Linked DNA regions of Homo sapiens. The protein of the gene in region 1 purifies or fractionates together with the protein of each later gene. This does not show direct contact. Each region holds a gene or a part of one and is shown on either strand. Other genes may lie near its edges. The genes, in order: PNPLA6 and SLC30A4.

Region 1 (3,821 bases):
GGCATGTGCCACCACACCCAGCTAATTTTTGTATATTTAGTAGAGATGAGGTTTCACCATGTTGACCAGGCTGGTCTTGAACTCCTGACTTCAAGTGATCTGCCCACCTCGGCCTCCCAAAATGCTGGGATTAAATGCATGAGCCACCATGCCTGGCCCTTTCTTTTTCTTAGAGACAGAGTTTTGCTCTGTCACCCAGGCTGGAGTGCAGTGACGCAATCATAGCTCACTGCAGCTTCAAACTCCTGGGCTCGAGCGGTCCTCCCACCTCAGCCCCCTAAGTAGCTGGGGTGACAGGCATGCACAACCACACCCAGCTAATTTTTTATTTTTAATCTTTGTAGAGATGGGGTTTTGCTATGTTGCACAGGCTGGTCTTGAACTCCTGGTTTCAAGCAATCCTCCCACCTCAGCTTCCCAAGGTGCTGGGATTACAAGCATGAGCCACCATGCCTGGCCCCCTGATCAATTTCAATTGGCTTGGGCTATGGCACATTTTTCAGGGTCAGTAGCACATAACACACGCACTGCTACCTCCCTCTCCTGGAACTGTGGCAGACATTTCTGCTTCATCACTATTCTCATTCCCACCAATGCAGAAATGGCAGTAGAAATCACTATACAGTGCTTCCAGGGGTGCAGCTGGCCTATAAGGAGAAAGTTCTTACACAGCACATGCACAGCCACACCCCTACTACATCCCCTGCAGACATCACCAATTGATCACTGATCTGTTTTCCAGAGATTCCAGATGGGATTCCTGGATTCCTCCTGGATTCCTCCCCCTCATACCACTCTGGGCTTTAAGTAGCAAAGCTTAGCCGGACCACCTATGCAGGCACCATGCCACTCCTGCCCACTCACATAGATCTGGTCGAACTTCCCAAAGTCCATGGTCTTGAAGCAGTCGATGGGCGGGCGCAGGTACTCGCAGTAGGAGCTGGACTTGACAACCTCTAGCTGCCGCACACAGGACACGTAGGCCAGGCGGGACTGGATTTCAGCCATGTCTGGAACCTTTACCTTGTCAGCCCAGGGATTCAGCCGCTTCCACAGCAGCCACCAGCCGGACAGGCTGTCCCCGTAGGTGCTGAGGTCCGTCTCATCCTGGCTCCCCACGTCAATGGCGATGACCGTTTTGGCACCCATGCTGCGGGCGATGTCCGCTGTGGGGCCAGGGGGGTCAGCGGGCTGCTCCCCTCGGGGGCCCGGGGCAGAGATGTTCAACCCAGTCCCACAGATGCCATCATGCAAATGATCACGCAAAAAAAAAAGAGAGAATACCCACACATGCAAACACCATGCTGTCATGCACAGACGTGCAAATGATGCAACTGAAGTTGAGGAGGGGGGTCAGGTGTTGGGAGGTTTTGTTTTATTTTCTGAGACAGAGTCTCACTCTGTCGCCCAGGCTGGAGTGCAATGGCACGATCTGGGCTCGATGCAACCTCCACCTCCCGGGTTCAAGCAACTCTCTTGCCTCAGCCTCTCAAGTAGCTGGGATTAGAGGCATACACCACCACGCCCAGCTAATTTTTGTATTTTTAGTAGAAACCGGGTTTCACCATGTTGGCCAGGCTGGCCTCGAATTCCTGACCTCAAGTGATCCACCCGCCTCAGCCTCCCAAAGTGCTGGGATTACAGGCATGAGCCACTGTGCCCAGCTCAATAAAGCTTTATTTATACAATCAAACAGAGGGCAGGACTCAGCCTGTGGGCCATAGTTTGCCCACCCCTGGCCTACAAGATTGTGAGCATGTGTGCAGTTGGCGTACATGTCTGTTCATATATGCACACTTCTGGGGTGTGAGATTTTAAGTTGTGTACCTGCCCGCTTCTCACCTGCACCCATAAAGGTGGTAGGCATGACTTAACTCGGTCAGAGGTGCCGCATCCTATCTACGTGTGTGCACATCCCTGCGTGTTTGAGGGAACGTGCAGGACAAACGGGACAGACTGGCATGCGTTGGCAAATGCCCTATTTCACTGACACACGTGTTCATCTGTGCACATGTGCCTGTGTGTACACGTGTGTGTAAGCCCTACCTGCCCCTGAGAGAAAGCATGTGCATATATAGCTGGTGTGCACACGAGTGTTGCATTCCACCTGCATGTCCCCTGATGTGTGTGTGGACGTGTGCACCTGTCCCTCTTGTACGTACATCCACTTGTGCTTAACACAGCACGCCAGCAGGTAGATGTAGATTTCTTTCTTTCTTTTTTTTTTTTTTTGAGACTGAGTCTTGCTCTGTCGCCCAGGCTGGAGTGCAGTAGCATGATCTCAGCTCACTGCAACCTCCAACTCCCAGGTTCAAGTGATTTATCTGCCTCAGCCTCCTGAGTAGCTGGGATTACAGGCACACCCCACCAGCCTGGTTAATTTTTTGTATTTTTAGTAGAGACGGGGTTTCACCATGTTGGCCAGGCGGGTCTCAAACTCCTGACCTCAGGTGATCCACCCACCTCAGGCCTCCCAAAGTGCTGGGATTCCAGGCTGAGCCACCGCGCCTGGCCAGAATGTAGATCTCAACTGCACATGTCGCTGTCCACAGGCACATTCATGTATCATTTTGTGCAAGTGATCGTATGTGTGCGCATGTGTGTCTGCACCCCTGCATGGGCAGCTTGGGCATGTGTCCCGTCATCGAGCCTGTCTGTGTGTGCCCACGCGTGTGCGTGTGTGTGGTGCGGGAGGTGCTTGCGTGTGCGGGTGGTGCGGGCGGCCACTTGCCTGGCAGATTGTTGATGTAGCCGCCATCCATGAGTAGGTGCCCGTCCTTGGGGTCGCACAGCGGGGGCAGGTAGCCCGACAGCGTCATGCTGGCGCGCACGTACCGCCACAGGGAGCCTGCGCGGTGGGACACACAGACACAAACACGCACAGACACGCTCAGACACGCCGGAGGCCCAGCCGGCCCGATGGGCTCGCTGACCTGGGACGTTGTTAACGTAGCACCCGTCCACCAGCAGGTGCCCGTCCTTGGGGTCGCACAGTGGGGGCAGGTAGGGGCAGTAGGAGGCGCTGGCCCGGACGTAACGCCACACACAGCCTGCGGGGATGGCGTGAGGGGGGTAAGGCGTCCGACGAGTCTCCCTGCTCCCCTCCCCCAAGGACGGACGTACCTGGGGTCTCCGGGGCATTAGTGGGTGGCGGTTAGTGGTCGGTGATCGGGCCAGGGTGGACGGTCACTCGTGTTAACAACGTCCCAGAAGCTCAGCGGCCCTCCCGGAAGCATCCCCCCAACCCCACGTGGCGTCAGCGGTTGCTGCAGGCTGGGCGGGGACACCCACCATCTTTGTGGACTCGCATGGCTGAGGCGGTGATATCTGTGGTCACGTTGAAGTAAGGCAGCCACAGGTCCTGCGGGGACAGGGATCGAGGTGGGGGAGGAGCAGGGGGCTCCTCCGGGGAGGGGTAGGCAGGGCAGGGGATGAGGTGGGCCTACCTCAATCTGCTTATCCTGGAAGACCCGATGGATGCTGCGGTTAAAGGCAGACCCAGTGAACATGGAGGTGACTGGGTACGTGAGGTCCAACACAGGTTCCAGCACCGAAGTCATGCTCTAGGGACAAGGGGCCAGACAGGGTCAAATAGGAGTTACATGGGGTCACAGATAAGGTTCATCAATAGGGGGTGAGCAAGCAGCACTTAGGGGCCAGGTGCAGCGGCTCACACTGGTAATCCCAGCACTTTGGAGGCCAAGGCGGGCAGATCACTTGAGGCCAGGAGTTCAAAAGCAGCCTAGCCAACATGGTGAAACCCCATCTCTACTAAAATACAAAAAAATTTGCCGGGCTGGTGGGGCGTGCCTGTAATCCCA
Region 2 (3,821 bases), on another chromosome or scaffold:
TATGTATTTGCTTATGTTTTCAAAAGGAAGTGCTGGAAGGATAGGCTAGAAACCAATTAAAAGGGTCTACTCTTATGGAATGGTATGGGGAGATGGAGTGGAGGGGAATGAAAGCAAGACTTCTCTGTGTTTTCTTTTAAAAAATAATTTTTGGCCAGGCATGATGGCTTATCTCTGTAATCCCAGCACTTTGGGAGGCCGAGGCGGGTGGATCACTTGATCTCAAGAGTTCAAAACCAGCCTGGGAAACAGGCTGCAGAGTTTGCAACCAGCCTGGGAAACAAAGCCTCGTCTCTACAAAAAATACAAAAGTTAGCCAGGCATGGTGGTGCATGCCTGTGGTCCCAGTCCCAGTCCCAGCTACTCGAGAGGCTGAGGTGGGAGGATTGCTTGAGCCTAGGAGGTCAAGGATGCAGGGGGCTGAGATCACGCCACTGCACTCCAGCCTGGACAACGGAGTGAGACCCACTCTCAAATAAATAAATTAATAAAATAAAATTTGACTTTTGCAACATGTTTTGCATATTTACAAAATAAATCAACAGAGAAAAAACCCATCCCTGTCCCACCCCACCATGTCATCAAAACAAAACAAAATTCAACAAGAATGGTAACAAACCAAGCTTCTTGTGGGGATTCCCTCTGTGAAGTTTTCAGGACCTGAATCTCCAAGTCTGGAATTAGAGATCACAAGAGCTACCCTACTTAAGTGTGTCCAAATGTAAATATATCTCTCCCCATAGAACTTCAAGAGATTACTCTGAAGCAATGGTACTGTGGAACTCAGGGACACCAACTGCTTTGGTTTACAGCTTTATTCATCAAATTCTATGTATCTTTGAATCTTCCTCAAGCAAACTAAGTTTTTTCTTCCAAATTTCCACCATTATTTCATAGAGCAGAATAAGTGAAATAAGGTCTATATCTAGATATCCCCTCATAATATTTCAGAATACAAAACAACAAAAAAAAGAAGATCCCAAAAGTTTCAGTGTGAAGCTTGAGTACCTTCTTAGCTCAGGAAATACCTATCTATCTATATCTTTAACAATTCCCTCCCTTTCATTTTTTTAGATGACTTTTAAAAATTGACATAAAATTCATGTAACAAAATTCACCATTTTAAAGTGTACAATTCAGTGGTTTTCAGTACATGTACAAGGTTGTGCAGCCATCATCACTACTAATTCCAGAACATGTTCAACACCTCAAAAAGAAATACCATATGCATTAAGTGGTTACTTCTTTTTATTTTTTAAGTTCTATTTTTCTGAGGTTCTTAATAGTAAGGCTTGGCTGGGGGCGGTGGCTCATGCCTATAAACCCAGCACTTTGGGAGGCCGAGGCGGGTGGATCACGAGGACGGGAGATCCAGATCATCCTGGCCAACATGGTGAAATCCCGTCTCTACTAAAAATACAAAAATTAGCCATGAGTGGCGGCGGGCCCCTGTAATCCCAGCTACTCTGGAGGCTGAGGCAGGAGAATCACTTGAACCTGGGAAGTGGAGGTTGCAGTAAGCCGAGACCGCGCCATTGCACTCCAGCCTGGGTGACACAGTGAGACTCTGTCTCAAAAATAAATAAATAAATAAATAAATAAATAAATAAATAATAAATTTCAGGAATAATTTTAATTTCAAAGAGCTATTTCTTGTATTTATTTTTCCAAAACATTTTACTGTTTTATTATTCTGAGCATATTAATAAGATAATTTAAAAACTTTTCTCCTGGTTCTGTTCTTTTCTTTTTCCTTTTTTTTTTTTTTGTCTCACTCTGTTGCCCAGGCTGGAGTGCAGTGGCTTGATCTTGGCTCACTGCAACCTCCACCTCCCAAGTTCAAGTGATTCTCATGTCTCAGCCTCCCATGCAGCTGGTATTACAGGTGGGCACCACCATGCCCAGCTAGGTTTTGTATTTTTAGTAGAAACAGGGTTTCACCATGTTGGCTAGGCTGGTCTCAAACTCCTGGCTTCAAGTGATCCGCCCACCTTGGCCTCCCAAAGTGATAGGATTACAGGCATGAGCCACCATGCCCAGCTTCTCCTGGTTCTTTAAGTTACTTCTCTTTCCTTTAGGGTTAATTTTTCTATTAGTTTAGTTTTGGTCATTTTAATTCATGGTGCTGGTTTTTCCCACATGCTGGAAGATTCTTGGTTGTCTATTCATACTTAGGGCAGAAGGATAGGGAAACTATCCTTTGTAAAAAGGAAATGCTGGAAGGATAAGCCAGAAATGAATTGAAATAATATTTTTTGGTAGAGACAGGGTCTTCCTATGTTGCCCAGGCTGGTCTCGAACTTCTGGGTTCAAGGGATCCTTCTGCCTCAGCCTCCCACAATGCTAGGATTGCAGGCATAAACCACCATGTCCAGCCTAAAATGGTTATTAATATGGGGTGTAGGGCAGGGCAGAGGATAACTATATTCCTTTAGGATGAGTAGGTGGAGAATCAGGATATGAGGTGGTAGAAATCTGAATTCTGGTAAAAGTAAGACTTATTTTGGAGCATCAACTTCCACACTAATTCTTAGTTTTCCCTGAACATTTTGTTCAGTTTCTTTCTAGAAGAACTATGTGGTGTTTTACTTGGCGGAAAGTGTAGGCTGCCTGAGTAGAGGTAGGAGTAAGAAGGGAGGTAGGGGCATAGTGACCACTGGGAACGGCTTCCCACTTATTCAATTAATCTTCCGTTTTCAGCCCCAATTCTCATTTCTGCTCATCTCTGTCCCTAAGCCTTAAGATCTGTTGGGCTGGTCCAGTTCCTAGTTCAGAGTATGTTCTACACATTGCTTCTTGGCTTGTTTTCTCCTTCAACCCACTCATATGTACTTTACAACTTCCAAAAATTTCTGGAAATGTGTTTACTGGTAACCCAATCATGTAATTCTCTTTGGTGTTTTGGTACCTCTATGTTTTTATCTTAATGGACTCTCAGAGAGACAGGAATCAAATGGTGCTGTCTGGTCTACCTTCTTGGAACTTAGTACTTTTAAGGAAAGGGAAAGATTTGACTTTCTATAGAAAATTCCAGAGACACAATAGGACCGGTCAGTTCTATTGTCTCTTATTTTTACATAGTATTTATTTATGAAGAAGCAAAGTGACTATGTAGAACAAACACTAAGTACTTCTTTAATATTTAATAGAAGTTTCATTATTATGGGTTCTTAACTTATATGTGTAGCATCTTCTGTGTTCTGTTATTGCATGTTTCTGAGGGAGTGTTTCACTGCTTTCATCAGAATTCCAAAGGGTTTATAACCTAAAAGAGTTTAAGAACCACAGGACTATATAAATGTACTCTCTCAAGCAGTGTTAAAAAAATTCCCATTCCATGATGATATGTTTACATCTTAGATCTTAACTGCAGGTGTTTAAATCTCAAAAAAATTAATGTTTAAAAATAATTTTGAAGCTGTTTAAAAATCCTAAGGCAACCAGTAAACAAATGACTATATAATATGTTGAGAAGCAGTGGAGTTTCCTTTAGGAACACATTCTTTTTTTTTTTTTTTTTTGAGAGAGACAAGAGTCTTACTCTGCCGCCCAGAATGGAGTGCAGCAGCATGATCTAGGCTCACTACAACCTCCGCCTCCCGGGTTCAAGCAGTTCTTCTGCCTCAGCTTCCTGAGTAGCTGGGATTACAGGCGTGCACCACCATGCCCAGCTAATTTCTGTATTTTTAGTAGATATGGGGTTTCACCATGTTGGCTAGGCTGGTCTTGAACTCCTGATCTCAGGTGATCCGCCCACCTCGGCCTCCCAAAGTGCTGGGATTACAGACGTGAGCCACCGTGCCTGGCCAGGAACACATTCA

What was found.
Region 2: the proteins of PNPLA6 (region 1) and SLC30A4 purify together in Homo sapiens (co-immunoprecipitation; one large-scale study listed by IntAct). This does not show direct contact.

What each region holds. Positions count from the first base shown.
Region 1 is NC_000019.10:7,556,195-7,560,015, reverse strand, and holds part of PNPLA6 (patatin-like phospholipase domain-containing protein 6), read right to left. Parts: intron 3,564-3,821; coding exon 3,447-3,563; intron 3,362-3,446; coding exon 3,292-3,361; intron 2,849-3,291; coding exon 2,732-2,848; intron 1,167-2,731; coding exon 865-1,166; intron 1-864. UniProt on the Homo sapiens protein: Phospholipase B that deacylates intracellular phosphatidylcholine (PtdCho), generating glycerophosphocholine (GroPtdCho). This deacylation occurs at both sn-2 and sn-1 positions of PtdCho.
Region 2 is NC_000015.10:45,505,746-45,509,566, forward strand, and holds part of SLC30A4 (probable proton-coupled zinc antiporter SLC30A4), read right to left. Parts: intron 3,266-3,821; coding exon of another isoform or gene 3,204-3,265; exon of another isoform or gene 3,113-3,203; intron 1-3,112. UniProt on the Homo sapiens protein: Probable proton-coupled zinc ion antiporter mediating zinc import from cytoplasm potentially into the endocytic compartment. Controls zinc deposition in milk.